Linked DNA regions of Homo sapiens. The main gene of each other region encodes a partner of the protein of the gene in region 2 in a complex. Each region holds a gene or a part of one and is shown on either strand. Other genes may lie near its edges. The genes, in order: CRHR1, GNB1, GPR21 and ADGRD1. A codon is read from its position in the direction of its gene.

The links.
Region 1: the proteins of GNB1 (region 2) and CRHR1 are in contact, whole or in part, in a cryo-EM structure (PDB 6PB0), measured with the Homo sapiens proteins. Residues at the interface, in NP_001269468.1 of Homo sapiens: Arg42, Arg46, Arg52, Phe292, Val307, Ala309, Gly310, His311, Asp312, Phe335; in NP_004373.2 of Homo sapiens: Arg145, Ser146, Lys376, Arg380, Asp383, Lys384, Ser386.
Region 3: the proteins of GNB1 (region 2) and GPR21 are in contact, whole or in part, in a cryo-EM structure (PDB 8HJ1), measured with the Homo sapiens proteins. Residues at the interface, in NP_001269468.1 of Homo sapiens: Gln44, Arg46, Thr50, Arg52, Ala309, Gly310, His311, Asp312, Asp333, Phe335, Lys337; in NP_005285.1 of Homo sapiens: Pro57 (codon at 1,441), Leu58 (codon at 1,438), His61 (codon at 1,429), Arg313 (codon at 673), Arg317 (codon at 661), Thr324 (codon at 640).
Region 4: the proteins of GNB1 (region 2) and ADGRD1 are in contact, whole or in part, in a cryo-EM structure (PDB 7EPT), measured with the Homo sapiens proteins. Residues at the interface, in NP_001269468.1 of Homo sapiens: Arg52, Asp291, Val307, Ala309, Gly310, His311, Asp312, Asp333, Phe335; in NP_942122.2 of Homo sapiens: Ser593 (codon at 1,861), Val594 (codon at 1,864), Ser595 (codon at 1,867), Arg598 (codon at 1,876), His819, Lys822, Val823, Leu826.

Annotation. Positions count from the first base shown.
Region 1 is NC_000017.11:45,779,652-45,787,371, forward strand, and holds the start of CRHR1 (corticotropin-releasing factor receptor 1 isoform 2 precursor), read left to right. Parts: upstream 1-4,668; 5' UTR 4,669-4,893; coding exon 4,894-4,926; intron 4,927-7,720.
Region 2 is NC_000001.11:1,804,023-1,811,093, reverse strand, and holds part of GNB1 (guanine nucleotide-binding protein G(I)/G(S)/G(T) subunit beta-1), read left to right. Parts: intron 1-4,555; coding exon 4,556-4,619; intron 4,620-6,512; coding exon 6,513-6,675; intron 6,676-7,071. UniProt on the Homo sapiens protein: Guanine nucleotide-binding proteins (G proteins) are involved as a modulator or transducer in various transmembrane signaling systems.
Region 3 is NC_000009.12:123,029,021-123,036,175, reverse strand, and holds GPR21 (probable G-protein coupled receptor 21), read right to left. Parts: upstream 2,510-7,155; 5' UTR 2,434-2,509; intron 2,006-2,433; 5' UTR 1,610-2,005; coding exon 560-1,609; 3' UTR 511-559; downstream 1-510. UniProt on the Homo sapiens protein: Orphan receptor.
Region 4 is NC_000012.12:131,103,895-131,110,965, forward strand, and holds part of ADGRD1 (adhesion G-protein coupled receptor D1 isoform 1 precursor), read left to right. Parts: intron 1-936; coding exon 937-1,040; intron 1,041-1,859; coding exon 1,860-1,971; intron 1,972-4,829; coding exon 4,830-4,983; intron 4,984-7,071. UniProt on the Homo sapiens protein: Adhesion G-protein coupled receptor (aGPCR) for androgen hormone 5alpha-dihydrotestosterone (5alpha-DHT), also named 17beta-hydroxy-5alpha-androstan-3-one, the most potent hormone among androgens. Also activated by methenolone drug.

The DNA.
Region 1 (7,720 bases), on a different chromosome or scaffold from region 2:
TTTATCTTTATTAGCCTCAGTGTCCAACAGTGACTGGTACCTAGTTGCTCCTCATTAAATGTTTGTTGAATGAATGCACAGATGAATGGAGTAATTAATACAATATCCCCCAATGTTCATGGGATTTTAAAGAGGCCACTTTCCTAGCCTCATGCTTCACAAACATTCCAGACCAGTGCTACTCCAAGCATGATCTACAGACCGGCACCTGTCTGCAAACTGTGTTGCCAGTTTATGACCTGGTAAGTGCAGAAATTGAGCATAAGCATTTAGACTTTTTTTTTTTTTTTTTTTTTTTTGGAGTGAGAGTTTTGCTCTTGTCACCCAGGCTGGTGTGCAATGGCGTGATCTCAGCGCACTACAACCTACGCCTCCTGGGTTCAAGCGATTCTCCTGCCTCAGCCTCCCAAGTAGCTGGGATTACAGGCATGCGCCACCATGCCCAGCTAATTTTATATTTTTAGTAGAGATGGGGTTTCTCCATGTTGGTCAGGCTGGTCTCGAACTCCCAACCTCAGGTGATCTGCCTGCCTGGGCCTCCCAAAGTGCTGGGATTATAGGCGTGAGCCATGGCACCCGACCCATGGCTCATATTTAATCTCCACAACTATTGCTATCATCCTATTTTTCAGGGGGAACTGAGGCTTATTGAAGTTAAGCAACTCCCCAAGGTCCTAGAGAGCAGTGGTAGGGCAGAGGTGGTGACCCAAGCACTTTGATCCACAGCTCACGCCTCAGCCACATCACTGGCAGAGAGTCAAGGGACTCAACAGAAACATTCATGCTAACTTCTCGGGTTCTGGAAAGCTCTATGCAGGAGGTGATGTTTGTTCTGAGCCTTGAAGAAGGCATAATGGGGAGGGGCATTCCAAGGCAGAGGCACACAGGAGGCAACCGCGTGAGGGGAGTCTGGTGAGGTTGGGCCGGGTGCGGTGGCTGGTTTCAAACTCCTGACTTCAGGTGATCCACCCTTCTCAGCCTCCCAAAGTGCTGGGATTACAGGTGTGAGCCACTGCACCTAGCTACATTTTGACATTTTTAAGCCATTAGACAGAATAGTTTTATGTCCATTTGATGTGCTAGTGTTTAAAACAGGGCTTTCATTTTGTCTTTTTTTCTTTCTTTCTTTCTTTCTTTTTTTCTTTTTTTTTTTGACTGAGTCTCACTCTGTTGCCCAGGCTGGAGTGCTGTGGCAGGATCTGGGTTCACTGCAACCTCCTCCTCCCAGGTTCCAGCGATTCTCCTGCCTCAGCCTCCCAAGTAGCTGGGATTACAGGCTCGTGCCACTATGCCCGGCTAATTTTTGTACTTTTAGTAGGGATAGGGTTTCACCATGTTGGCCAGGCTAGTCTCAAACTCCTGACCTCAAGTGATCCACCTGCCTTGGCCTCCCAAAGTACTGGGATTACAGGCAATGAGCCACCACATCTGGCCTTTTATTGCATTTTTCTAATAATTCATTCCCGCAGTGTTTTGCAATCGCATTGGCCTGTGACAGATTAGAAATTTTAAAATACAGAACCAGTTCTTTGCCACAGTTGTCTGAGAAGTATGGTTCCAGACCAGCAACCTCCCGGGGATGGTTAAGCCAGTGGAACCCCACAGGTAGGAAGTGCCTATTCAGCCCTGCCTCCCTGGGTCTCACCCATCATTACATCAAATCTGTCTCTCCTACTGTTGGGAAGGACATGTGATTGTCTTTTATTCCTGTTTGGAATCCTCACATTTCTCCTGTCTTCCAAATCTGGCAGATTAAATGAATGAAAGCTGATTCTGCTGCTGGCTGGACAGGAAGGGGTGAGAAGGCAAGGGAGGGATGGGATGAGAAGAGAGTTTGGAAAAGGCCATCCTGGGAAAAGAATGCTGGAATGGAGTAGGAGCCTATCCTGAGGAGGGTGTGCAGAGGCTGCTCTGGCTGGGGCTGAGGGAAGGAAGGGTGTAGGAGGGAGGGACAGGGCAGACACTAGCACCTTCACCAAGCCCAGCAGATGAGAGCCAGGCCCTTGAAGGTGAAAGGAAGTAGTTTCAGGACAAATGAAAGGGGATATTGAACCTTTTTACAGAAGGAATGTTAAACGCCAAACTTTCATAACCCCCCTGAGGCTGCCAAGGCCAAAACTATAAATAAGTAGGTCGAGGAATTAGGCAGAAGCCTCCTCCCCTGACCTGTCCGTCAGCGGGATGTGGTGGGGTGGAGGTTAAGTCAGTGAAATCAACACAGACAGGATGAAATGAGCTATCTGTAGACGCCACTTCAGAAAGCGAGAAGGTCTGACTCCTGGGCAAAAAAGTCAGGAAGAGCAAGACTTGATTGCAGTCCAATCAATGGCATTAGCATATTTAAAGATCATGTCAAGGGGAGGATAATGGGGCTCAGAGAGGCAAAATTTGATGGTGTTTATTAAGCAGAGAGAAACACAGAAGCTGGAGCCGTCTAGTCCTTAGAGAGTGTGCTCCAAGGTGGGACCAGGGAGGGAGCAAGGCCTTGGCTGGGCCTGGGCAAAGCTACCAGAGGACCAACCGGCTTCCTCTCCTCTGATTCCACAGCCTACTGCTGCTGGTGAATTTCTGATCAAGAATTCTGCTCCCCACAAAGAACTGCCTAGAGGGTGGGACCAAGCCACCCCTCACACTTGAGCATCCAGTCCACTCCATCGTGATGATGATGATGATCATAGTATTGGTGACTACAGCTAACCCTCATTAAGCTCTCACTATGTGCCAGGCTCCGTTCCAAGCTCTTTACAAATACCAACTCCTTCAAACTCCCCAACCACCCTCAGAAGTAGCGTTTCTACCCCGATTTTATAGATGAGAAAATTGAGGCATTGTTAAATAACTCTCCAAGTTTATACAGCTTGTAAGTGGAAAAGCCAAGATTCAAACTCAGGCCATCTGACTCCAGAACCTGCACATCAGACTGCCCCGCACTTAACTGTTGTTGGTAACAGTTAGTTGTCCATCTGCTTAGCATGTCCATCCCTTCTGGGGTTGGCTGGGGCAAGTCAGGGCCCAACTCGGCACAGCCAGCTCCGGAGCACTAACCTAATGGGGGTTTTGCAAGACTCGGGACTGTGTGCTTCACCTGGAAAGTGCCAGGTGTGTGGATAAGCCATGTGAGCAGCTGGCTTCCTGGGCAATGCCCCTCCCCACTTCAGTGTCCCAGGCCCCTTTAGGGCCCAGCCCTCCAGGCACTGTGAGCTGGGAATGAGGTGAAGGAGGACTAGGCTTACCCTCTGTGTGCCTCCATTTTCTCACCAGTAAACTGTGTGTGTTGGATCTTACGATCTTCTAAAATAACTCCAGCTCCAAATGAAGGCCAGTGGACCCATGAACACGCTGGCTCTTGCCCAGTGTGCTGAGAAGAGGGCAGGAGGGAGGAGTAGGGTGGGCACGGCAGGGCACAGGGTGCAGGGCAGGTGGGTTCAGTTTGATTTCAAAGCCGACTGCCCGCCGCCCCAGGTGCTCTGGTGTACCCAATAGGGGCTGCATTGGCCAGGCGGCCTAGGCTCTGCGGGTGGAGTGAAGATTTCTCTACCTCCCAGTTTCTCCCTTTTCAGCTCTGGTAGGAGAGAGGAAGAGTGAAGAGGAAGTCAAAAGTTCTGTTCATCTGGAAGGGCTGGGAGTTGCTTCCTGGGATGGGGAGCTCCGAAGCCAATTCAGAAGACGGCCCCGGGGTCTGGCGGGGAGGCCCACCGCTGCCCAGAGGGCTCGGCCGGCCGGGAGGGGGCGCTGTGTCCTCCCCACGCCCTGCCCGCGGGCTCCTAGCAGCGTTCGCCGCGCTGCAACGCAATGCGCGCCCGGCTTTCCCCTGGGCAGCGTTCAGTGCCCGCTTGTCCTGCAGGGCACCGCCGTCTCCCTTTCATCCTGGGGCTCCCAGGTCCAAAGGGTTCCCAGATCCAGCCTCTTGCCTGAACCAAAGTGGCCAGGCACTCAGTTTGTAAGATGAACAAATGAAGGAAAGAAGGAACGAATGAATAAGGGCTCATCTTGCAGAGCGTTCGCGTCTCAGCGCGCACCAGGCACATCAGTGCCAAAGGTGCTGGGGGTCGGGCCCAGCGCCCGGCGCGGCTGGAATGGGGGCGGCGAGGAGCTCCTCCTAGCCAGCCGCAGGGCGGGAACTGCCCAAACGCAGGTCGCAGCCTCACTGGGTTCCGCGGCGGCTCCGCTCAGTAGGGACCGCCCTGTTCCCTAGCCCCCAATAGCCTCGCCCTCATAAATTCACCTGAGCACCCTGGCCCAAGTCACCCCAGATCCCTGGGACTTCCCAGGCCCCGACCTCGGCCGGGCGGGAGGCTGATCCTTTACCGCGGCCCCCTTCCCCCATTCCCGGCTTCTCCCCGGGCTGCGGCGGCCGCCACTGCTGCCAGCGCGCCCCGAGGACTGCCGCAAACCCCGGGCGCAGGGAAAGGGGATCCTGGCGGCGGGACACAGAGAGCGGGCCGGGGGAAGGGGAGGGAACGGAGGAGGCGAGGAGGAGCTGGGAGGGAGCCGAGGGGCGAGGCGCGGAGGAGGGACCGAAGGGGAGCGGAGGGGAGAGGGAGGGGGAGGAAGGGGAGGGGACGAGCTGGGCGAGGGGGCGGGGAGCCGAGGCGAGGAGCGGCGCGGACCGTGGGGGAGGTGGCGGGGGCGAGGCCGGCAAGAGGCGGCCGCGGGCCGGGCTGCGTCGGGAAACGGCGGCCAGACTTCCCCGGGAAGGGGCGAGCGAGAGCCGGGCCGGGCCGGGCCGGGCCGCGGGGCCGGGAAGCGCCGAGCCGGGCATCTCCTCACCAGGCAGCGACCGAGGAGCCCGGCCGCCCACCCCGTGCCGCCCGAGCCCGCAGCCGCCCGCCGGTCCCTCTGGGATGTCCGTAGGACCCGGGCATTCAGGACGGTAGCCGAGCGAGCCCGAGGATGGGAGGGCACCCGCAGCTCCGTCTCGTCAAGGTAACAGCCCGCCGGCCATCCCTCGAGCGCTGGCGCCCCCGGCCCCTGGCGGACGCGGGACGGGGCTGGGCTGTGGGTGTGATGGGGGCGGGGGCGCTGGGAGAGCCGTGCTTAGGTCGGGGAAGGCTGGGCTCCGGGGCAGCCTAACTCTCTGGACCTTTGGAGCCAGGGTTGGGTAGGCAGGGGGAGACTCAGGTGAGAAAAGAAATCGTGGCGAAGCCGCCGGGATGTTGGCGGAGGAGGGGGTCCGCCCACCCGGGTAGCCGGCTCCGCGCCAAGAATCGCTCTAGGCTCTCGGGCAGACGCCTAGGGGAGGGGAGGTTCCACCTCCCACGCCCTTCCTGCAGACCTCGGCCCCGGGACTGGAGACTCTGAAGCGGGGTTCCCACCTCGCCCCAGCGCCCCCAAACAGCTCCCCGACTCCGCACGCCCCCGCCCTAGTCTTGGGAGCGCGTCCTGCCCCTTCCCCTCCGCGGCGAGCTGCGAGTCCGGAGAGATGAATGCCGCCCGCGCCTGCGAGCCCTTGATCAATATCGCAGTCTCGGGGGAGGAGACGGTGCCTCTGGCGGCAGTTCCTGTTCCCCGACCGCGGCTGGGAGCGCGACGCTCGTTCTCCGAGCCTGGGCACCCGCGATCCCCGCGCTGCGCGGCCGACCCTGCGACGCGGATCGGGCGCTGGAGTTTAGGAAAGTAGCCAGACCGCACGTCCAGCGTCTGCCCGCTGAAGTTCGTGGGCGGTGGGGGCGGCCCGCGGGTTGTGTGAGCCAGGGAAGGGCCGGGAGGCCGGCAGTCCGGCCCGCCGCTCGTGTCAGGCGTCACTTGCAGCCCCAAGCGCTTTCCAGAGCGTTTTGGTTTTGCAGGGTATAGGCGCGCCCGCTGCAGCCGGCCGGAGAGGCGGGTGGGCCTCTGCGCTGCTGCCGGGACACCCCGCTTCGCGCCAGTCTGGGCATCGCCTCACCCGGGGCTCGGGACTCCGCAGGGTCCGCTCCAGCCACAAACATAGACACCAGCTTGACCCGGCTCAGGGCATTCAGAGCGATTACATTCAAGAGACTTCGGTGGATTTGGGGGAGGGGTGCGGATTGGCGGAATTTCATTTTTCCATCAGTTATTAAACCAACTGTACGTATACCGGCTTACCAAGTGGTTTGAGTTAAACCACCAAGATTTTTAAATGCAGCAGCTGCTGCTTCCTTAGTTGAGACGTTACAAGTTACTGAGATTTTTCTCTAATCCTGCCCCTCCCCAAATATTTATAAATTGATTCTTAAAATGATCAAGGGTTGGTCTTACTGAACCCACATCCCCTCCCCCATCCGTTACCTGAGGGCTAGGGATGAACTCAGATTATTTTCTGGGCGTTCGAGGAGACAGACAGGTGAGGAAGGTAGAAGAAAAACATCCAGAGAGGTCGAGTAGTTGGCACTGAATGGGAATAGTTTCCAAAAGGCTCGCGTGTACCGAAGCCTGGTCTAAATGCACAAACCAGTTAGACCAAATTCAGTCTTTTAAATGGATTCAAAGAACTGAACTGCGGGTGTTTTCTTTTCTTTTTTTTTTTTTCAGGTTTACGCGGAAATAGATCAATGTTCTTTTTCTGGCCTTTCATAGAATTGTGTGCAAATCTCTGTTTAGAATGATCATGTTTTCCTTAAAAAAGTCTTTTTATTTCCTTTGTTCCTACTAGATGGTGGGGTGTTTGCCCTTTATGCCTGGCCTAATAAACTCAGTAGGCATTCAATAAATTCCAGATGAATGTGGGGCAGTGAGTGAATGGCCAGCGAATGCTGGTTTCAAACGTTGGTTACAATTAAATAGTTGCTTTTCTTCTTTTATTTATGTAGCATGTACAATTCACTGGGCATTATTCTACCTGCTTTGCAAATATTAAGTCATTTAGTCCTCCTAACAGCCCTAGGAAGTAGGAATTATTCCTGAGACACAGAGAGGCTAAGTAACTGGTTCAAGGTCACACAGCCAGTGAGTAGTGAAGTCAGAATTCAAACCCAGACACTCTGATAAAAGGCTTTGTTTTGTTTGCTTTTACCAGAAAATATCCTTTTTTTTTTTTTTTTTTTTCAAGACAGGGTCCCACTCTGTCGCCCAGGTTGGAGTGTAATGGTGTGATCATGGCTCACTGAAGCCTCAACCTCCCTAGGCTCTGGTGATCCTCCCACCCCAGCCTCCAGAATAGCTGGGACCACAGGCATGCACCACCACACCCAGCTAATCTTTGTATTTTTTGTAGAGATGGGGTTTCCCCATATTGCCCTGGCTGGTCTCAAACTCCTGGGCTCAAGCGATCAGCCAGCCTCGGCCTCCCAAAGTGCTAGGATTACAGGCATGAGCCACCATGCCCGGCCATTACCAGAAAATATTCGAAGCCACCTAAATCTCACTCTAGAGCTCAGCCAGATGAGAGCTCAGGTAGTTTTGTCAGCATGAGAGTACAAATCTAGGGGATTTAGGGTTAATCCCAAATCCAGCTCCATCCCCAACAAGTCAGCCAGTGTTGGGAAAGGGTCCACTCTGGGGCCTATATTGTGGGCCTCACACTATAACAGTTACAGAGTCCTGGGGGAAAATGTGTGTGAATGGGGAGAGACAGGGTGTGTGAAAGTGTGTGTGTGAGTGGGGAGAGACGATGTGTGTACAAGTGGCCATGAGTCAGGAGAAGACAGACAAGACATTGTCTCTATCCCCAGGGAGGGGCAGGGGCCTGAGCACCTCGGAGTCAGCCACACACCCACTGCATCTCCTCGTAGGGAGATGGAGTGTGGCTGTAAACATGGGT
Region 2 (7,071 bases):
AAAAAAAAAAAATATATATATATGTATATATATACCCACAAACATGCGCATTGCACTCCCGCCTGGGTGACGGATGGAGACTCTGCCTCAAAAAACAAAACAAAACACAAATAAAGCTACATGAGAGGCCAGGCACCGTGGTTCACGCCTATAATCCCAGCACTTTGGGAGGCTAAGGCGGGTGGATCACCTGAGGTCAGGAGTTTGAGACCAGCCTGCCCAATATGGTGAAACCCTGTCTCTGCCAAAAATACAAAAGTTAACTAGGCTTCATGGTGGGTGCCTGTAATCCCAGCTACTCAGGAGGCTGAGGCAGGATAATCGCTTGAACCCAGGAGGCAGAGGTTGCAGTGAGCCAAGATTGCACCACTGCACTCCAACCTGGGTGACAGAGTGAGACTCTGTCTCAAAAAAACAAACAAAAAAGAAAACTACATGCAAGGCCCACAATGATTACTTGTTATGTATGTATGTATTAATGTATCAGATGTACATTTGTAATATGTTTATCAATATATTTGTACTAAAAGGCAACTTTTTTTTTTTTTTTTTTTTTTTGAGACTGGGTCTCACTCTGTCGTCCAGGCTAGAATGCAGTGGTGCGATCCTAGCTTACTGAAGCCTTGAACTGCTGTGCTCAAGCAATCCTCCTGCCTCAGCCTCCTGAGTAGCTGGTACCACAGGTGCACATCACTGTGCCCAGCTAATTTTTAAAAAATATTTTTTGTGGGCCGGGCGCGGTGGCTCAGGCCTGTAATCCCAGCACTTTGGGAGGCTGAGGTGGGCGGATCACGAGGTCAGGAGATCGAGACCATCCTGGCTAACTCAATGAAACCCTGTCTCAACTAAAAATACAAAAAATAAGCCAGGCGCGGTGGCAGGTGCCTGTAGTCCCAGCTATTTGGGAGGCTGAGGCAGGAGAATGGCATGAACCCAGGAGGCAGAGCTTGCAGTTAGCCGAGATCCTCCAGCCTGGGTGACAGAGCGAGACTCCATCTCAAAAAATATATATATATATTTTTTTGTGGAGACAGGGTCTCCCTTTGTTGCCCATGTTGGTTTCAAACTCCTGGACTTAACCAATCCTCTTATCTCAGCCTCCCAAAGTGCTGGGGTTACAGGCATGAGCCACCACCCTCCCTCCTTTGAGTAAAATGAAGGGCATTAGGTGTTTTGATTTTTGACAGCTACTTTCAGGGTCCTGGAGCCTGTTAGCTTGCTTCCTGGCCCTTGCCTCTATGTTCTAGGTGAGTGGCACCTCAGATAATTGATTTTTGAGTAGGTAAAGGCACTACTAGGCAACGTGAACCCAGCTTTCCAACAGCTCCCTGACCCGGGACTAGGAGGCATGTCTTCTCTCACCTTCTGGAGGATCAGTGGACAGCTTACGTGTCCCTAATCCCTCTGGAAGTCAGCAGTTATTAAGCTCTCTGACCGGGAGACCTCTGTAAAGGTGATCCTCCTAATCTAGGAGGATGAGCTGCTTTAGATCAGCTCTGATACTCGACAGAAAGTCTCAGAAGGGCTGGGCAGAAATAAAGCTAGAGTGGGAACATGATACCATTACGTAGAAATAATTTTAAATGTTTAATATGTTGATGACAACCTGGATTGAGAAGTTTGCTTTAAGAATTGCAACTGAAGGCTGGGTGCGGTGGCTTACGCCTGTAATCCCAGCCGAGGCAGGCAGATTGAGCTCAGGAGTTCGAGACCAGCATGGCAAAACCCTGTCTCTACTAAAAATACAAAAAAGTAGCCAGGCATGGTGGTGCACACCTGTAATTCCAGCTAATGGGAAGGCTGACGCACGAGAATTGCTTGCATCTGGGAGGCAGAGGTTGCAGCGAGCTCCAGCCTGGGTGACAGAGTGAGACTCTCTCTCAAAAAAAAAAAAAAAAAAAAAATTGCATCTGAAAAATAATAGGATGGGAGCCTGCACTTAGTTTTTAGTTCTGTGATAAATTTTGTAATAAAGTGCAGGTGAAAAGGTTTTTATTTGTTCTTAAACTCATTGACACCTGTATCAAAACATCTAGTTTGATATTAAAAGTGTCAGAGTTATCAACAAAACTTGAGAGAGCGTTACTCCAGCTTTAGGTCAGCTTTAAGAAGCCACATATGTTCACAGCTGAAATAGTTAAAACCTGTGTTTTGAGGCGCTGTGGCTTATGTCTGTAATCCCAACACTTTGGGAGGCCAAGGTGGGCGGATCACTTGAGGCCAGGAGTTGGAGACCAGCCTGGGTAACATGGGGAAACCCCATCTCTACTAAAAATACAAAAATTAGCCAGGTGTGGTGGCACGTACCTGTAATCCCAGCTACTTGGGAGGCTGAGGCATGAGAATCACTTGAACCCAGGAGATAGAGGTTGCAGTGAGCTGAGATCACACCACTGCACTCCAGCCTGGGTGACAGAGCGAGACTCTGTCTCAAACAAACAAACAAACAAAAACAAACAAACAAAAAACCTTGCGTTTGATAGAAACTTTAAAATTAAAAATCCTTATACTATCATTTACCGTACTGACAGATATCCCTGCATCAAACAGTGGAACCTTCTTGCTCTTCCTTGAAAACAGCATTCTGTGCTACAGGGTTCCTTAGGACCTCTCATAAGCAACTGTGGTTCCCAGGAGTTACCTTTCACCCACCTTACTTGCCTGCTAAGGTGAAATTCTTTTGCTCCTTATTCATATTCTCCTTTGTAGTATGGAGCTCCTTTTCAACATGTGGATTCCGAACTGAGCACAGTTGCCAGAGCAAGGAAATAGTTATGAAAAAATTCATGGTCGGGCGCAGTGGCTCAACGCTTGTAATACCAAAACGTTGGGAGGCCGAGGTGGGCGGATCACCTGAGGGTCGGGAGTTCGAGACCAGCCTGATTAACGTGGAGAAACCCCGTCTCTACTAAAAATACAAAATTAGCTGGCTGTGGTGGCGCGTGTCTGTAATCCCAGCTACTTTGGAGGCTGAGGCAGGAAAATTGCTCAAATCTGGGAAGTGGAGGTTGCGGTGAGCCGACGCACCATTGCACTCCAGCCTGGGCAACAAAAGCAAAACTCCATCTCAAAAACAAAAAAAAGAGGCCGGGCGTGGTGGCTCCCGCCTGTAATCCCAGCACTTTGGGAGGCTGAGGTGGGCAGATCACGAGGTCAGGAGATCGAGACCATCCTGGCTAACATGGTGAGACCCTGTCTCTGCTAAAAATACAAAAAGAATTAGCTGGGCGTGATGGTGGGCGCCTGTAGTCCCAGCTACTCGGGAGACTGGGGCAGGAGAATGGCATGAACCCCGGAGGCGGAGCTTGCAGTGAGCCGAGATGGCGCCACTGCACTGCAGCCTGGGCCACGGAGCGAGACTCCGTCTCAAAAAAAAAAAAGAAAAAAAGAAAAAATTCGTGATAGTTACTGGTCTCTGCTCCCGGACCATGCGCAGTGGTGCTGTTGTTTACCAAGCAGGTGAGGAGGGAACGCCTCCTTTGGTTTCTAGGAGACCTTGATTCCAATTTTAGCTCAGTCTGGGAAATTTCATGGGGTATTTTGGGTGAGAAATGTTTCATGAATTTGGAATGTCTAAAAGTGGTTTGTTCTTTCTGTTTGTTTTTTTTTTTTTTTTTTTTTTTTTTTTTTCAGTCAGGATCTCGCTCTGTTGCCCAGGCTAGAGTGCAGTGGCGCAATCTTGGCTCACTGCAACCCCCGCCTCCTGGGTTCAAGCAGTTTTCCCACCTCAGCCTCCTGAGTAGCTAGGATTACAGGCATGCACTACCATACCCAGCTATTTTTTTGTGTTTTTGTAGTGGAGACGGGATTTTACCATGCTAGCATGAGGCCATGCTGGTCTCAAACTCCTGTGATCCACCTACCTTGGCCTCCCAAAGTGTTGGGATTAAAGACATGAGCCTCTAATTTGATTTGTAATGAAACCAAACAGAAACACTTATGAAATGATGTCAGCCTGTCTCAGCTGACAAAGGGAATGGGTGCCAGGGGTGATGTGGCCTGCATTCGGTTGGGGCCAGGCATCTCCACTCTCAACTGTGGTCTGTGACAGTGTTTTTGTTCATGCTTTGAAGTTGGTCTGACATTTAGAGCCTTCCTTTCCTTTCTTTCTTTCTTTCTTGAAACAGAGTCTCACTCTGTTGCCCAGGCTGGTGTCCAGTGGCATGATTGTGGCTCACTGTAACCTCCGCTTCCTAGGTTCAAGCGATTCTTCTGCCTCAGCCTCCCGAGTAGCTGGGATTACAGAGACGCACTACCATGCCCGGCTAATTTTTGTATTTTTAATAGAGACAGGGTTTCGCCATGCTGGCCAGGCTGGTCTTGAACTCCTGACCTCATGTGATCTGCCCACCTCAGCCTCCCAAAGTGCTGGGATTACAAACGTGAGCAACTGTGCCCGACCAGAGATTTTTTTTCTTATAAATAAGTGGCTTTGTCTGAAGCACATGTAACATGGGAGCACATAAGCCACCAGAGTCTGGGTTTTAGTCTGTTGCTCTTGTACACTTTCTGTGTTGTGCGGTACTGATAGGTTTGCTTTTGTCTGTCCCTCCAGGCTTCTCGTCAGTGCCTCGCAGGATGGTAAACTTATCATCTGGGACAGCTACACCACCAACAAGGTAGGGACTGGAGGATTCCCTTCCTTGAAAAACCAACCCAGGAAACAGGGTTTTAAGCTCTGGATTCATTTTGTTAAATCACGTAATACAGGATAGGGAAGGCAGCAGCGGCAAGCTCTGTTTGTTAGTAGTGAAGTTGCGCAGGTGAGATAGAAGCTGAGTCACGTGCCACCTGTCACGGTCTCTTCCTCTGGACCAGGCACAGTTGTGCTGTTGTCCGTCATCTCCTTACCAAGCTGGTGGGAGCTAAGGACCTTCTGTGTTTCTAGGAGACCTCAATTCCAGTTTTAGCAGAGTCTGGGAAGTTTCATGTTTTATTTATAGAGTGCAGAAGTATCACTTTTCATTCAGTTACAAGTTTTTAGAAGAGATCATCTGAAAGACATCATACTTTAAAGTGTAATTTATGTTATTTTCAAGACTTAATCCAAAGTGTATTGTTTTGAATAAAAAGTATTGTCATTGGTCCAAACATGTATGTAAAAGATGTAATTCAGTTTATTTTACTAAAGAATACTAAATGTGTATAAATGATTGCATTAATTACAGCAGATCTAAAACAGTGGGAGAGATGTGGCAGGGTAGATTGTAGGAATGTCCATTTTGGTTATTCCATAAAAATCTTTTGTTTTCGGCTGGGCGCCGTGGCTCACACCTGTAATTCCAGCATTTTGGGAGGCTGAAGCAGGTGGATCACCTGAGGTCAGGAGTTTGAGACCAGCCTAGCCAACATGGTGAAACCTCGTCTCTACTAAAAATACAAAAAATTAGCCAGGAGTGGTGGCAGGCGCCTGTAATCCCAGCTACTCAGGAGGCTGAAGCAGGAGAATTGCTTGAGCCCAGGAGGCAGAGGTTGCAGTGAGCCTAGATCACGCCACTGCACTCAAACCTGGGCAACAAGAGCGAAACTCCATCTCGAAAAAAAAATTTTTTGTTTTCAGATGAGTTCATAGCCATTTGACAGGATAATGCAGTGTTTTCCTTCCAATACGTGTGGGTTTTTTTGTGTTTTTGAGACGGAGCATTGCTCTTACCGCCCTGGCTGGAGTGCAGTGGCGTGATCTCTGCTCACTGCAGCCTCCACCCCCCTGGTTCAAGCGACTCTCCTGCTTCAGCCTCCTTGAGTAGCTGGGATTACAGGCGCCCACCACCACACCCAGCTAATTTTTGTATTTTAGCACAGACAGGGTTTCACCAATTTGAGGCCAGGCTGGTCTCGAATTCCTGACCTCAGGTGATCCACCCGCCTTAGCCTCCCAAAGTGCTAGGATTACAGGCATGAGCCACCGCACCCGGCCTGTTTGTTTTCTTTTGAGACGGAGTCTCGCTCTGTTGCCCAGGCTGGAGTGCAGTGGCGTGATCTCAGCTCACTGCAACCTCCGCCTCCCGGGTTCAAGTGATTCTCCTGCCCCAGTCACTCAAGTAGCTGAAACTACAGGCATGCGCCATCACGCCCAGCTAATTTTGGTATATTTAGTAGAGACATGGGGTTTCACCATGTTGGCTAAGCTGGTCTTGAACTCCTGACCTCAGGTGATCTGCCCGACTTAGCCTCCCAAAGTGCTGGGATTACAGGCGTGAGTGACCGCACCCGGCCTAATGTGGTTTTGATGAGTGGGCAGCACTACTGTTAAGACTCCACCTAATCATAAGTTGTGACTTCAGTAAAACTGGACTGTGTGGATTGAATTTGAATCCCATGTGCAGCACTGGACTTCTCATTAAGTATGCTTCACCTGAGTGGCCACATATGGGAATCGCTCTCTAGATAATTTTGGCTCTTATTTTGTTCTGTTACCTCCTTTGCAGTGAAAGTTGGAGATGAGAAAATCCTGGTGTCAGTGTTGTTTTTGAACATAAAGTTGTTTGCATCATCTGTCTTTCTGTCATTAGGTCCACGCCATCCCTCTGCGCTCCTCCTGGGTCATGACCTGTGCATATGCCCCTTCTGGGAACTATGTGGCCTGCGGTGGCCTGGATAACATTTGCTCCATTTACAATCTGAAAACTCGTGAGGGGAACGTGCGCGTGAGTCGTGAGCTGGCAGGACACACAGGTACCTGTCCTTGTTCATAAGCTTCAAGTGACACAAGCTGTTTACCTGGGGTACATTATATGCTTTGGATACTCACTTTTTATCAATCATTTTTTAATTAATTAATTAATTATTTTTTTTGAGGCGGAGTCTCGCTCTGTCACCCAGGCTGGAGTGCGGTGGCGTGATCTCGGCTCACTGCACGCTCCGCCTCCTGGGTGTTCACGCCATTCCCCTGCCTCAGCCTCCTGAGTAGCTGGGACTACAGGCGCCCACCACCACGCCCAGCTAATTTCTTTTTTGTATTTTTAGTAGAGACAGGGTTTCACCGTGTTAGCCAGGATGGTCTCGATCTCCTAACCTCGTGATCCACCCACCTCAGCCTCCCAAAGTGCTGGGATTACAGGTGTGAGCCAC
Region 3 (7,155 bases), on a different chromosome or scaffold from region 2:
AGAATAAAACACAGAACATTTGGCTTTCTAAATGACAGTGTTGAAACTTGCAGTGTAGTTATGCTTTGGCATACATAAAAAGTAATTTCTAAAACCTTTTCATTTATATTTTACTATTCCGTTAGAAGAAATCAATTGCATATGAAGCCCAAATAGCTGGAAAGAGCCCAGAAAGTGACAAGAAAGTGATGACTTTTTAAAATGCTGACGCTTTTCACACTCAGGTTCAGTCATGCCAGCTGGAAAGAGGTGTTAGATATGGCTTTATTCATTTTAAATCTGAGAACTGTAGTCATTTCCAAGACATTTCAAAAATTGAGAGCAAGAGCAATTTGTCTTCATGATCTTGAGTCTTCTAATTCACAAGCACTTTTGAAAACCATTTCTACAAACTTAGAAGGTATCCATACGAATAATTTGTATGCTATTGTTTAGAGTCAAAGTATTCTGTCCCAGATTTCCTAGTGAATTAGGAATACTTAGAGATAAAATACACACACACACACACACACACACACACACACACACACACACACGGGAACCCCGTAACTGAGCCACTTCAGATATGACATCCATTAAGAGGGCCTTTGCTTCTAACTGTGTAAGGGTCGTTGGCTGTAGTCTGACTTGCACAAGAAGTACACATAGCCCCTGAGAGGCGCTTTAGTCCTCTTTGGAATACACTGTTGGAGAGACTATAAATTACACAGTTGCAGAAACTGTTACTAATAGCAAGCCAGGTGGTCAAGAAGGATGCGAAGCGGTTGCTGTGGCCAGTGGAGCTTTCCAACAAGAAGTAGATGATATATGGCAACCAGAGGATGTAAAATACACTAGTGATTCGAAACAGGACCATGGCATAGCGCTTATCAGGACAGGCCTGCACTTCCCCAGTCTCCCCACTCTGGCTGCTGAAGCGGGCTTGCCTTTCGCTGATATCCTTTGTGTGCTGTTGGCAGATGCGGAAGATGTTGAAATAGGTGAAGCAGACAATAAGGGCTGCTGGGGCATATAACATCATCACGATGAACAGGGTGAAGTAGGAGTCGGTGTGCCAGGACTCCGCACACCACTGAAACACATCTCCATGATATCCAGGTTTGCCCCAGTGGAAAAAGGAAGGCAGGAAGACCAGGGTCGAGTATAGCCAAATCAGGAAAATACACAGGCGTAGTCTCCAGGGTGTAACCAGAGTATTATAGGTTAAAGGTTTAGTAATGGCAATGTATCTATCAATGCTGATACAGGCCAGAGAAGCCATGGAGACGCTCTTCAGAACTGATACTACAAAACCAAATATCTGGCAAGTCAAGGACTCCTCTACTGGAAGGGGGTGATGGAGGAGTGATAAAGAAGGGACCACGCAGCTCACCCCAACAAAAAGGTCAGCATATGCCATAGTCTGGATAAAATAACTTGTAGTGTGATGGTTCAACAAAGGTGCACAGTGAAATACAAAAATCACAATGATGTTGCCAGAAATAATCAATACAGTTAGAAAGACAATAATCAATACTTCCAAAAGGCAAAAATTGACAGTTTCCAAATAGCCAAATGCCAAGAGGCAAAAAGGGTGGCTGCTCTGATTACCATCCAAGGTGGAGTTCATCTTGAGCTCAGGAGTGATCTGTCACTTCATGCTGCCGCTTGGCTGCTGCCAACAGTTCAAAGAAGCAGCTGCTGTCATTGCGGTCAGCTTTGCATGTGTGTAATAATGCCAGAGGAGCCTTACTCCCCAAGCTCCTGATGCTGCTGCTCTGGTGCATTGCCTGCAGTGCAATTCCCCTTTAAATCCTTCCTGGAATAAGGAGAGCCAGCAGCAGTTGTCTGGCCAGTCCCAGACGCGGCCATAGTGCCAGGTTCACCATACACATAGCACCAGGGGAGCAAGGTAAACTCTGGGGAGAACGTCTTCAGGCCAAGTGAGGGTAGGGGGAAAGGGTAGAAGAGAAGGGAAGAAGATTAGGAGCTTCAGCAGGAGTTGTAATGAGTCTCCTCTGAACAGCTGATAGAAGAAAAGGAGAGAGCATTTTACATTTCACATCCAATGCCCTAATCAAAGAACCTGGCTAGCTCAGGCTGGCATCATCCCTCCCGCTCCACCCCTACTGGCACCACTATTCACGGCTACCCTCAATAGCACCCCACACAACTGATCTGTACTGTATAGAGGAGCAGCAGCAACATCAAGCTTTCAAGATCAGCATAAAACAAAACCAATCACAGTCAGATTAATTTACCCCCATTTCCTTTCATTTGAGACGGGGGAGAAAAGGAATTTGCTTATAATATTTAGGAAAACCTTTCACTACAATTACCACTAATAAAATTAGCCAAGATAATTTACTTTCTTCATTGATTCCAATATAATATTTTGCCTCTTTGAAAACATTTCAACAGAATTTACTGTTTAGTTCAATTTCAGAATGTTACCTGTAATTCTGCATGCTGCAATCCAAACAAAAGCCACAATACATCCTTAGCAGAAAGCCTTGCAAAGCAGGAATGTGCTTCAACCCGCGTACTGCAGAACTAAGACACGGAGGGAGGAGATAAAGGAGTAGGAGGGGAAACAGGGAGAAGAGGGGGCTTGGGAAAAGGAAGAAAGGGGGAGGGGAAAGAAAAAGCCTGTACGTGCACACACTCTGGCATCTTTAGCAACTAATTGGAATTCATCGTCAGAGAGGTGCCCCGATTTCCAGACTGCACAGTGTGGGAATGGCTTGCTATGCCTGCAGTGCACCATTTGAAGGCTGTTTCCTCGTCTGTCTGGAATCCCCCTTTTAGTAGATAAGCAGAATTCAGGGTGCTAGCAAGGAGAAGGGGTAGTAACAGAACAGGGTGTCAGGAATTAGACTGAAACACACTACCAGAGGGGTAATTTCTATTTTCTCACGGCATTTTCCCAAAGAACAAAGAGCAATATTAAAGAAAGGAAGTATGTTAACTTCCTTTAAGTGTATGGCGTATGGCAACTGAGAATCATAATTCAGCTGCACAAGAAGTTCTAGCTAGAAGGCTATTCACCATTAATTTTGTCTCTCATGATTCACTGAATATTGGCCAAGAAACTTTAAGATCACTTTTTCAAGAGAAAAATAAAGTATCTCCCATTCTGAATACTACACAAATAGCACAGATAAATTACACTGTTCCCATATTTGACACTACGCTATAATTTTGAGATGCATTTCTTGCTTCTAATTTGCTGAGCAGTAAACAAGAATACAAACAGAAGATAGAAAAGTAAATGTACCTTCTTCTACTCAGGCATGGATATTACAGGAAGTTTCATGGTACAAATAAGCCTTTGTATCTTAGAATATACAATCTTGCTTCTGCCTATTTAAAACAATGCAAACTGTATCATATTATATTGTGGTTTTCCTGGTAATGTCATAAATGATGACAATTTTCAGCTAACAGAGTTGGGTGCTATGAAAATGTGTAATTTTAGTATCTTTATTTAGAAGGATTAATTGAAAGTATCCAGCAGAATAAAAGACAATAAACAAATGCCGGCATTTGAAAGCATTCCAAGAGGTAGGCAACTGAGTAAAAACATGTGATCCAACTTTCATTTTTATTCATTTTATACACATGCTTTCTAATTACAGACAAATGGCCACCCATAATCAGAATGCGATGAATTACATTTTAAATCTGAAGCAGCAGCAGTTGTCTGGCCAGTCCCAGACGCGGCCATAGCCCCAAAATAAAAAACCTATTTAACCGTAATCCTGATAGTAATATTTGACAGGTCTTATTGGGAAACAGAGCGAAGTGTGTGGCACAGTAAAAAGACCAATAGCATCGAAGGAACAATAATCAGGTTCAAATTCTTGCTCTAATATTACTTATCCTCTCTTAAGCCTCTGTTTCATCATCTGTAAAATGAGAACAACACTCCTTACTTCACAGGGTTGTTGAGAAATAAAGTATATAAAAAAGGCTTACCAACACCTAGCACAGAGGGGGTATATAACTTTACTCACTTTCTGCTCCTACAACTAAAGTAGCCTTCCTTAAGAGCCAGTGTTTTCCTGCCCATCATGTTGAAATGCTTAAGGCTGGGCTCCTCTGAATCCTGAAGGGCCTGCTCTTACTGAGGCTATACAGTTCTAGGTCATACAACAGCTATCTGAATACAGTGCTGTCACACATTACTCAAATACATTGAGGCTATGCATATACAAAGCACTGAAGGTAGCTGAAAAGAAGGAATGATGACATGGCGTCAATTATTCCCTCAACATAAATAATTTCTCTGCCTAGGTCTCCAGCCCTGACTTCACTCCTAAGCTCCCTTTTCCATCTACAATTTGCCTGCTAGTCACACATTTTCCACCAGTAGATGGAAGATGTCCTGTAGATGTCCTGTAGAGATTTCAACCACAGCATGTCTAAAATCAAAAACCTTTTTCCCACCAAATAAGCCTCTGTATTTTTCCAACATTTTCCCAGGCACTCCGGTATGAAACTTAGGAATCAATCACCTTGACCACTCTCTCCCTCAAAGCACTTAGTTCTGAGTCACCAAGTCCTGAAAATGTATTTCCACAATAGTTCTCAAATGCATTTCCTCCTTTCAATTTTTAATACACTTACCATAGAAGATGATTACCACCTAAACTTACAGTTTTGTTCATTTTTCTAATTTTTTCTTTTCTGTCTGGTTAAATATCCAAAATGTACATTTTATTATTGTACCCCATTGTTCAAGAGTCAATGGCTCCTTTACTGCCTTTCTAGTCTGATCTCAACTGTTTTACTTCCCCCAAATAACCTGCCCTCCAGCCAAATCAGATTACTTCTATACACTTGCCATAGACTTTATTTTTAAACCATATTTACTGAGCACCTTAATAAATACGGAATAAAGGAGTGATTTTTGAGAGTTACTGCTGTATTTCAATAAACAGAAAAAGTGTTCACCAAAGTCAAAAGTCTAGGCTTTTCTACTACTACTTGTGAATTTGGGCATGAAACTTATTCTCTCTGTGGTTTCCCATGTATAAAACAAGACAGTTACGCTGATAAAAACAGACAATACAATGGCTGAAAATTTGAAAGAATTCAAAATTTATAAAATTGCAACAAAACTACAAGCTGTTACATTACTGCCATTAGTACAGTAACAGTTCTTTCAACTTTGTTTCTATTTTAGTGAAACCACTCTAGGAGCTAAAATCAAAATATTCATTTAAGAAACTTTAAAAAAAAAAGACTAATAGCCACATTTAACTGAATCAATCAGGAATTAAATGTTTTGCTTTGGATTAAAGAAAAACATTTTCTTCAAAAGACACAATTTATTAACAACTTGGGGAGGCTCTATAAATTTGTATCCTTACAGAAATCCACATGTACATTTGGTCTTTAACCATAACATAGACTCATTCTAGTGTTCCATACCACTCTAGGAAGACTATAGTTAATACTATGTAGTTTCAAATAGCTAGAAGGAGGTTACTGAATGTTCCCAACACAGAGAAATGATAAATGTTGATAAATGTTAGAGATGATGGGTATGTGCACAATTACCATGATCTGATCAGTATATACTATATGTATCAAAACATCCTTATATACCTCATAAGTATGTATGTTATATGCTGATTAAAAAATACAATAAAAAATAAAATAATGCAGTCTCATGATATATTCTCTCTATATTTACTTTGAAGGCTGAGTAACTTTCTATATATATATGACTAAAAGGAAATACATTAAAAATCAACACTATTATTGGATGGTGGGATAACATTCATTAAAAAATCTTTCTTCTTTATAGCTTTCTATATTTTCTGAATTTTCCAATTTCTATATACTCTCAGAACCATATTGATTTAGCAAGATAGAATGATGCTGGGTTGAAGTTGTCTACTTCATGGGGCTCTGTTCCACTTGTTCTTATGCCATCAGAGCAACATTCCTTCAGACAGTCTTTGGTACTCAATCTAACTCAAAATGGACTCCCAAAATGTCAGTTAAAACCTCTTACAGAACAAGAATATAATTACGAACTTACCGATACTTAACCATTTCATTGCTAGCTAAATACTTTCTGACCTGCAAACACGCCAATTTCTATATGGTTCAACCTAATGAAATTAAAACAACTTTAAAAGCCAAAATAATTAAAATAACAAAATGACAGGCTTAAAAAGAAAAGCAGAACGAGAAATGAAATGTAACAAAAAAAGGAAAAGACCTGTTCAAATTATATTTCTTTTTCTCCCAACCTATTCAGAGACTTAACTACTTGTAGATGATAAATTATCTCAGTTCTTCAAATTCCTAAGCTTCACCTCTGGGCATTAGTGTCAACTACCACTTATTATTTGGTAAAAATGAGCTTCACTTTTTGTCTGACATCTTAGCAAGGCTGCAGTGTTCGCCACTGCTCTCCGAGCTTCACGATGCCACCCAAGGACTACAAGAAGAAGACAGACACTGGAAAGTCAGCCAAGAAAGACAAAGACCCAGTGAACAAACCCGGGGGCAAGGCCAAAAAGAAGAAATGGTCCAAAGGCAAAGTTAGGGACAAGCTCAATACCTTGTCTTGTTTGACAAAGCTACATATGACAAACTCTGTAAGGAAGTTCCCAACTATAAACTTATAACTCCAGTTGTGGTCTCTAAGAGACTGAAGATTTGAGGTTCCCTGGCCAGGGCAGCCCTTCTGGAGCTCCTTAGTAAAGGACTTATCAAACTGGTTTCAAAGCACAGAGCTCAAGTAATTTACACCAGAAATACCAAGGGCAGAGATGCTCCAGCTGCTGGTGAAGATGCATGAACAGGTCCAAGCAACTCTACATTTGGAAAAATAAAACTTTATTAAGTAAAAAAAAAAAATGAGCTTTAAACATTGATTAATTAACATATTATTTTAGTGCAGCTGATGTGAGTTTATTTATGTAACTGTCATTCCAAAAATGATTTGAGATACTTTGACTCATCTTTTATTCCTCCCTCGCCCTCATCTCCCACATTCATTCAGTCATCAAGTGAGTGCCAAGGACTCTACCTCTGAAATCCTCTTAAATAGCATCTTTTTCCCCATCCCTTTGCCACTACACCCCAATCCAAGTTGAAATTATCTCTTGCCTGAATTATTAACGGGTCTCGCTGCAATTATTCTTACTCCATGCT
Region 4 (7,071 bases), on a different chromosome or scaffold from region 2:
CAGCTGGGAGGCTGCCCTTCCAGGCCTGTGGCTTAGGAGCCCGGAGCCTCCTGGAGCGCAGGGTCACATGTGTCTGAGCTTGAGGCCCCGACTTCAGAACCGAGGGGGCGCCGTCTGGATTGTGCGGTCGGTGAACTGCGGCTTCGGTTCTATCCTTTGTGGCCCTGCAGCCGCTTAATCCCCAGGTGTGTTCTGTTCTGCCTCATTCCCACAAGGTGTTGGGACCCAGCAGACACGGGTGCTGGCGATCACCACCGTGTCCATTTAGAGAGCTTTCCTGAGGCCCACAGTGTGCAGGCGGCAGCCATTGTGCGGGGACTGGGAGGGTTGTGGCCTCAGGCGGGGGCGGTAGCCAGCTCTTCCCTAGCACTACTTTGTGCGGGGACTGGGAGGGTCGTGGCCTCAGGCCGGGGCGGTAACCAGCTCTTCCCTAGCTGCTCCAGCACTTTATGTTTGTAAATTCATGGAGTCCTTGCGGCCACTGTGGGAATGGAGAGGGGTCATTATTTTCATTTCACAGCCGAGTGTCACATGGCCCAGATTGTCAGCCAGGACGTGGCCCAGCTGGGACTTGAACCCGGGAGGTCTGGCTCTGGGGCTGACTGTTAGTCTGCAGCCCTGTGTATTGCAGTGTAGACAGGAGGCTCAGCGCCTGCCCGGGCCAGGCAGCCACAGTCTGGAGACTGTGGCTGAGGGAGCCTCAGTGTTCTGTAGGGCACCTCGGGGCACCGGACATGCACGCACAGAACCAGGGCTGCAACCCCAGCACCGGCCTCTGTCGGTGGCAGCAACAGACATTTGGGCTGGGAGGCAGGCTTGGTGGTCAGCACCACACTCACAGGGGACCAGCTGTGCACCCACCTGGGCCCTCTGCAGCTTCAGGCTCCGATGGGGTGCCTGGGCCTGCTGCTGACGCCTCTGCTCTGCTCCCCGCAGCTTGCACGCGGACACCAGGTGGCGCTGTCGTCTATCAGCTATGTGGGCTGCTCCCTCTCCGTGCTCTGCCTGGTGGCCACGCTGGTCACCTTCGCCGTGCTGTCGTGAGTCCCCTTTTCTAATCCACCCAACAGTCTCTCGGCCCCTGCCTGCACCCAGATCTCAAGATGGAAGAGACACGGGAGAGGGGAGGGGCTGTGGAGGTAAGAGCACCAGGCTTAGCTGGAAAGGTCTGGAAAGGCCCCCAGCCCAGGCACAGGAATTCTGGTGGAACCCGAGCCAGGCAAAAGGGGATGGCCATGGGCCTGGGGACACCTCAGCCCTGTGCTCAGATATTCACTCTCGCTCCCACGTTCCTCAGCACAGGCGTGTGGTCGGCTTTGAGGGCCCGACTGTGCCCAAGAGAGATGAGAACATGCTTGGATGGGGGCTGGACAATAACCAAGTAAACAAAAGCGAGAACAAACATCTTCACTGTGATCACGCCACGAGGCAGCAGGGCAGAGAGCGAGGGGTGCAGCTAGGTCCCAGCAGTGGTCAGGAAGCTTACGCTGAGGGAGACATTTGGGCCGCCATGCGGGGACCTGGGAGAGGGTTTACTGCATGGGAACAGCTATGCAAAGGCCCCACAGCTGGAATAAGCTGGGGCTTTGAGAAGCAGGAACATGAGCTGGGAAAGAAAGGAACTCAGAGCAGAGCCATGGCCCAGGGTCAGACTGTGTAGGGCTGTGTGGGCATGGAAGGAGCTGGGGTCAGATCCAAGAGCAATAGGGAGCCATCGATGGTCCACAGCAGGGAGTGACAGCAACCCCTCTGGCTGCTCTTGGAGGAATGGATATAGGGACTTCGTGGGGCCAGGGAGCCCAGCCTGGGGGACTGGGTCGGCGCAGGGCCCAGGCCTCACACCCTGCCTCTGTCCTCAGCTCCGTGAGCACCATCCGGAACCAGCGCTACCACATCCACGCCAACCTGTCCTTCGCCGTGCTGGTGGCCCAGGTCCTGCTGCTCATTAGTTTCCGCCTCGAGCCGGGCACGGTGAGTGGGCGCAGCTCCGTGTTCCTGCGCTGTCCTTCCCTTGCCTCCTCGGATGTCACCGGGTGGCACCTTCTGCTAGCTTTTTCAACTCAAATTTCAGAACCCATCTCCCCAGACAACCAGGGCTGTGGTTTTCTCGGGGGAAGCAGAGATCGTGACGTGCATGAGCTGGTTTCTGTGCTGCACGCCAGCCTCGGGTAAAGCTGCCGCTGCCGCCACCCACTCACACTGCCTAGCACCAGCTACGCGCGAGGCACCATGACAAGGGCTTGCATCTGTGAAGCCATGTCACCCTCTAACCAGCTGTCATCCTCTCAGCCTACAGATAAAGGAATTGGGGCACAGGGCTCACAGTCCTTGGCCAAGCTGACGGCCTGGTGTGGGCAGACCAAGACTCTTATTGGCTGCAGGCTGTGCCCTTCATCAGCTGCTTGACAGCAAACAGTTGTGCCACCTCTGTTCAGCGAAGCAGACCTGCAGACCTAGATGCCATCTTTCCCTGCCCTTTGCATGGAGTGGGGGGTTCTCTGGGGCCCTAAGAAGTCTTAGACCTCACAGAAGGCAAAGAGCTGAGACTCTCTGAAGTGACCCAGCAGTGGAATGATGTGGGCTTGTAAGCTAGTTGATGGAAGAGAAAAACAGAGGGCTGCCTGCTCCATGTGTGGGAGGAAAAAGGGAGCTGGTTCTGGCAGAAGCTCTTAGGAACCCAGCAGGATAAGCCTGTGGTCTTAGGGTGCAATCAGGATTGGCCAACAGAAGATGAACGCTTTATCCCATGCCTAGCGGGTCAGCAGAGCCTCTCCTCCTCACTGCCCAGCAGAGCCCTTTGTCCCCATGCATGTCCTGGGGCTGCTGCCTATGGACAGACCCACCTTCATGTGGCAGCAAGCACCTCCCTCACAGGGCACCCCACCTCAGACTCGGGAGCATCTGAGAAGTTCCTGGATGCACCGTGGAATGGATGGGGTGTGCACTGGCCTCATGTTCTCCTGCTGGACGCTTCTCAGGCTCCGGTGTGAAACCTCCCATGAGGATTCCTTACAGTGCAGATTTTGGTTTAGGAGCTCTGGGTGGAGCTCAGAATGCTGTATTTCTATCAATCATTCAGGTGATGCTGACGCTGCCTGTTCAAGTCCATACTGGGGAGCAAGGTCCCACTGTGTGCTGGCAGCAGGAGGGGAGGCAGGTCTGCAGCAGCTCCAGGTGTCTATAATCCCAGCTGGTGGCCCTAGGGGACTGGGAGAGCATCTTTCCTCCAGAACCCTGTGTCTCAATCCCAGGGAAGGGCTCTGATGGGTCCCGCTTTCCCAGAGACCTGTGTCTGAATCCCAGGGAAGGGCTCTGATGGGTCCCGCTCTCCCAGAGACCTGTGTCTGAATCCCAGGGAAGGGCTCTGATGGGTCCTGCTTTCCCAGAGACCTGTGTCTGAATCCCAGCGAAGGGCTCTGATGGGTCCCGCTCTCCCAGAGACCTGTGGCTAAATCCCAGGGAAGGGCTCTGATGGGTCCCGCTCTCCCAGAGACCCGTGTCTAAATCGCAGGGAAGGGCTCTGATGGGTCCTGCTCTCCCAGAGACCCGTGTCTAAATCCCAGGGAAGGGCTCTGATGGGTCCCGCTCTCCCAGAGACCCGTGTCTGAATCCCAGGGAAGGGCTCTGATGGGTCCCGCTCTCCCAGAGACCTGGGTCAGAATCCCAGGGAAGGGCTCCAGTTGGTCCTGTTTGAGTGATATGCCTACAGGGTAAACCTTTGTGCCCAGATGGGAGAGGATGATTGTAATGGTTGGTCCCACCAGAGCCTCTGGGGTAGGAAGGGGCTGCTCCCCAAGGAAAAGGGGCAGCTGGTCCTGGAAGACACAGGGCCAGGGGTTGCTGAGCCAACAAAAATAATAGGTATGTCTTATTTTGTATCTAGATATAACAGATCATGATGACAAGAAACACATTTAGTGGCTTGTACATTTCTTCTCTGAGAACTAACTGCCTTGGGCGTATCTGAAGGACAGAACTTGGAGCGCCAGCAGAGCTGGGTTGTCCTGGGGTCCTTGGTTTGTGTTCCTTCCTGGGCTCTGGTTTCCTGGACCTTTTATCTAGAGCTAAGGGACACGCCCTGGCTGTTCCCAGCACCTGGACTCACAGGGAGCAGAGGAGTGGAGCCCCAGGAGGATCTGAGGCTGCACTGTGCAGGGCCCAACTCTCTCCGTCCTGGGCACCTGGGGCCTCCAGGCCCCAGGCAAGGAATGGAGAGGTTCCCAAGGCCCTGCCTTTCTGTCCCTGAGCCCTATTGAGGGGAAGCCTATGGAGCAGCATGGTCGCCTGAGCCCCTTTCAGTTCTGGGTAACTACAACTTGGAAGCTGCAGTCAATTTAGTTAGAACTAGAAGTCCCAGCATGTAGGGTTCAGCCACATGGCAGGCGGCAGGCTCCACACCTCTCTGGGAGCCACGTGGCTTCCAAAGTTCCTTGCTCCAGTCCTCACTTGAAGGGAGGGAAACTCTTCCATAGTCCCTGCCTTAGCCCCAGAATCCACCCTGATTGGACCAGGTGAGTCATGTGCCCATCCCTGAGCCAATCCTGTTGCAAGGAATGGATAGTTTTGCTGATTGGTTGGGCCTGAGTCCTGTGCCCTCTCCTGAACCAATCACCATCCCTGGGGGCAACATGGTGCTGTAATTGGCTAGCCCTGAGTCAAGCGCTACACCCAAATCCCTGGGCTTGAGCAACAGGAAGATACCCTGGGAAGAAACATGGTCACATGACCAAAAGACCACCCAGGACATGGATACTGGGAGGCTGGGATCATAGCCACGCCCAGGGCCCACCCCAGAGCTGTCTCACTTCCCATCTCTGGTTAAATCCTAGACCCCCTGCCAAGTGATGGCCGTGCTCCTACACTACTTCTTCCTGAGTGCCTTCGCATGGATGCTGGTGGAGGGGCTGCACCTCTACAGCATGGTGATCAAGGTCTTTGGGTCGGAGGACAGCAAGCACCGTTACTACTATGGGATGGGATGGGGTAGGTGGGGCAGGGCAGGTGGGATGGCGGGGCGGGAGGGACAGGAAGAGACAGGTGGGGATGGGGCAGGTAGGACAGGATGAGACAGGTGGAAGTGGGGACAGAAGGGGCAGGTGGGGATGGGGGGAGGTGGGAATGGGGTTTGATCGGATGGGACAGGGAAAGTCAGATGTGCTTTCATCTTCATATTATCCTTCTTGGTGCCTCCTAGAGACCCAAATAGGAAGGAGAATCCACTGGCTAATCAAAGGCAAAAAGTCCCCATCACTTGGAAACATTTCCAACATTCCTGACTTGGTTTATCAATTTTGGTGATCTTTTCAAAGAACCAACTTTTGGTTTGATTTTCTTTTTTGTTTTTCTATTATCCGTTTCTTTAATTTCTGCTTCAATCTTCATTATTTCCTTTCTTTTGCTTATTTTAGCTTTAGTTTCTTCTTCTTTTCCAGTGTGTCGAAGTGAAAGTTGAGGTTACTGAGTTGAGATTTTCTTTTTTAATATAGGCATGTATAGTTATATATTTCCCTCTACTCACTGCTTTAGCTGCATCCTGTATGTTTTGTGTCTTCATTTTAAATTCATCTCAAAGTATTTTCAAATTTATTTAATTTTTATTTGACCCATTGATTATTTATGTTGTTTAATTTGTACATATTCATGAGTTTCTCACTTTTTTCTATTATTGATGTCTAATTTTATTTCATTGTGGAAAGACAACATATTTTGTATGACTTCAGTCCTTTTAACTGTATTAGGGTTTGTTTTATGCCTTAGTAAGTATCTATCCTGGAAAGTGTTCCATATGCCCTTGAGAAGAATGTATATTCTGCTGTTGGATGGAGTGGTCTACAGATACCTGTTAGGCCTAAGTTGGTTTATAGTGTTGTTCAAGTCTTCTATTTCATCGCTGATCCTTTTTCTAGTTGTTCTGTCCATTACTGAAGTATTGAAGTCACCACTTGTTGTATTGTGTATTTCTCCCTTCAATTTGTTGATGTTGTTTCCTGTTGCTTGGGGTTCTGTTTATACTTACATCTTTCTGATGAGTTGACCCTTTTACATTTATAAAACATCTCTTCATCTCTAGTATTATGTTTTGTTTTAAAGTCTGTTCGTCCCATATGATTAGTAGACTCGCTCCAGCTTTCTTGCAGTTGCTGTTTGCAGAGCATATATATTTTCCATCCTTTTACTTTCCACTTATTTGTATCTTTGAACCTAAGGTATATCTCCTGTAAACAGAATACAACTGGATTTTTAAAAAATTGTCTGGCAATTTCTGCCTTTTGGCTGGGTCATTTAATCCTTTCCCATGTAATGTTATGACACATAGGGTGGATTCACATCAACAATTTTTCTCTTTGTTTTCTATATGTCTACTATCTGTTTTGTTTCTCTATTCTTCCTTTACTTCTTTCTTTTGAATTAAGTGAATATTTCCTAGTGTAACACTTTAATTCTCTTAATGATTTTTTTCACTTTTTTTTTTTGGTTATTTTCTTAGCGATTGACCTAATGCTTACTATATACATCTTAGCATATTAGAATCTATTCCAAATTTATACTAAATTATAAGATATAAACATTATTTTTATATAGGCATATTCTCTTTTCCTTTGTTCTCTGATTATTGCTATACATGTTACATCTGTATAAGGCACAATTCAATAATACATTTTTGTAACTATTTCTTTAATCTTGTATCTTTTAAAGAAGCTGGGATAAAAGGAGAGCAAGTACATATTTATAGAGTTACATTAACCTTCTGATTTCCATTTCTGGTTCTCTGTATTTTTTCCTGTGAATTTGAGTTTCCATCTGGTGGTGTTGCTTGCTATGTGTATGTATGTTTCTGTGTGTGTTAAGATTACTTTTTGGGGTCATTTGCTTTCAGCCTGGAGAACTTTCTTTGTTATTTCTTGTAAGGCATGTCTGCTAGCAACAGATTCATTTGTTGTTTATCTGGAAATCCCTTTATTTCACCTTCATTTTTAAAAAGTAGTTTTTCTAGATATAAGATTCTTTTTTGCTTTTCGTTCTTTGATTATGTCATCTCACTGCCTTCTGGCTCGATTGTTTCTCATAATA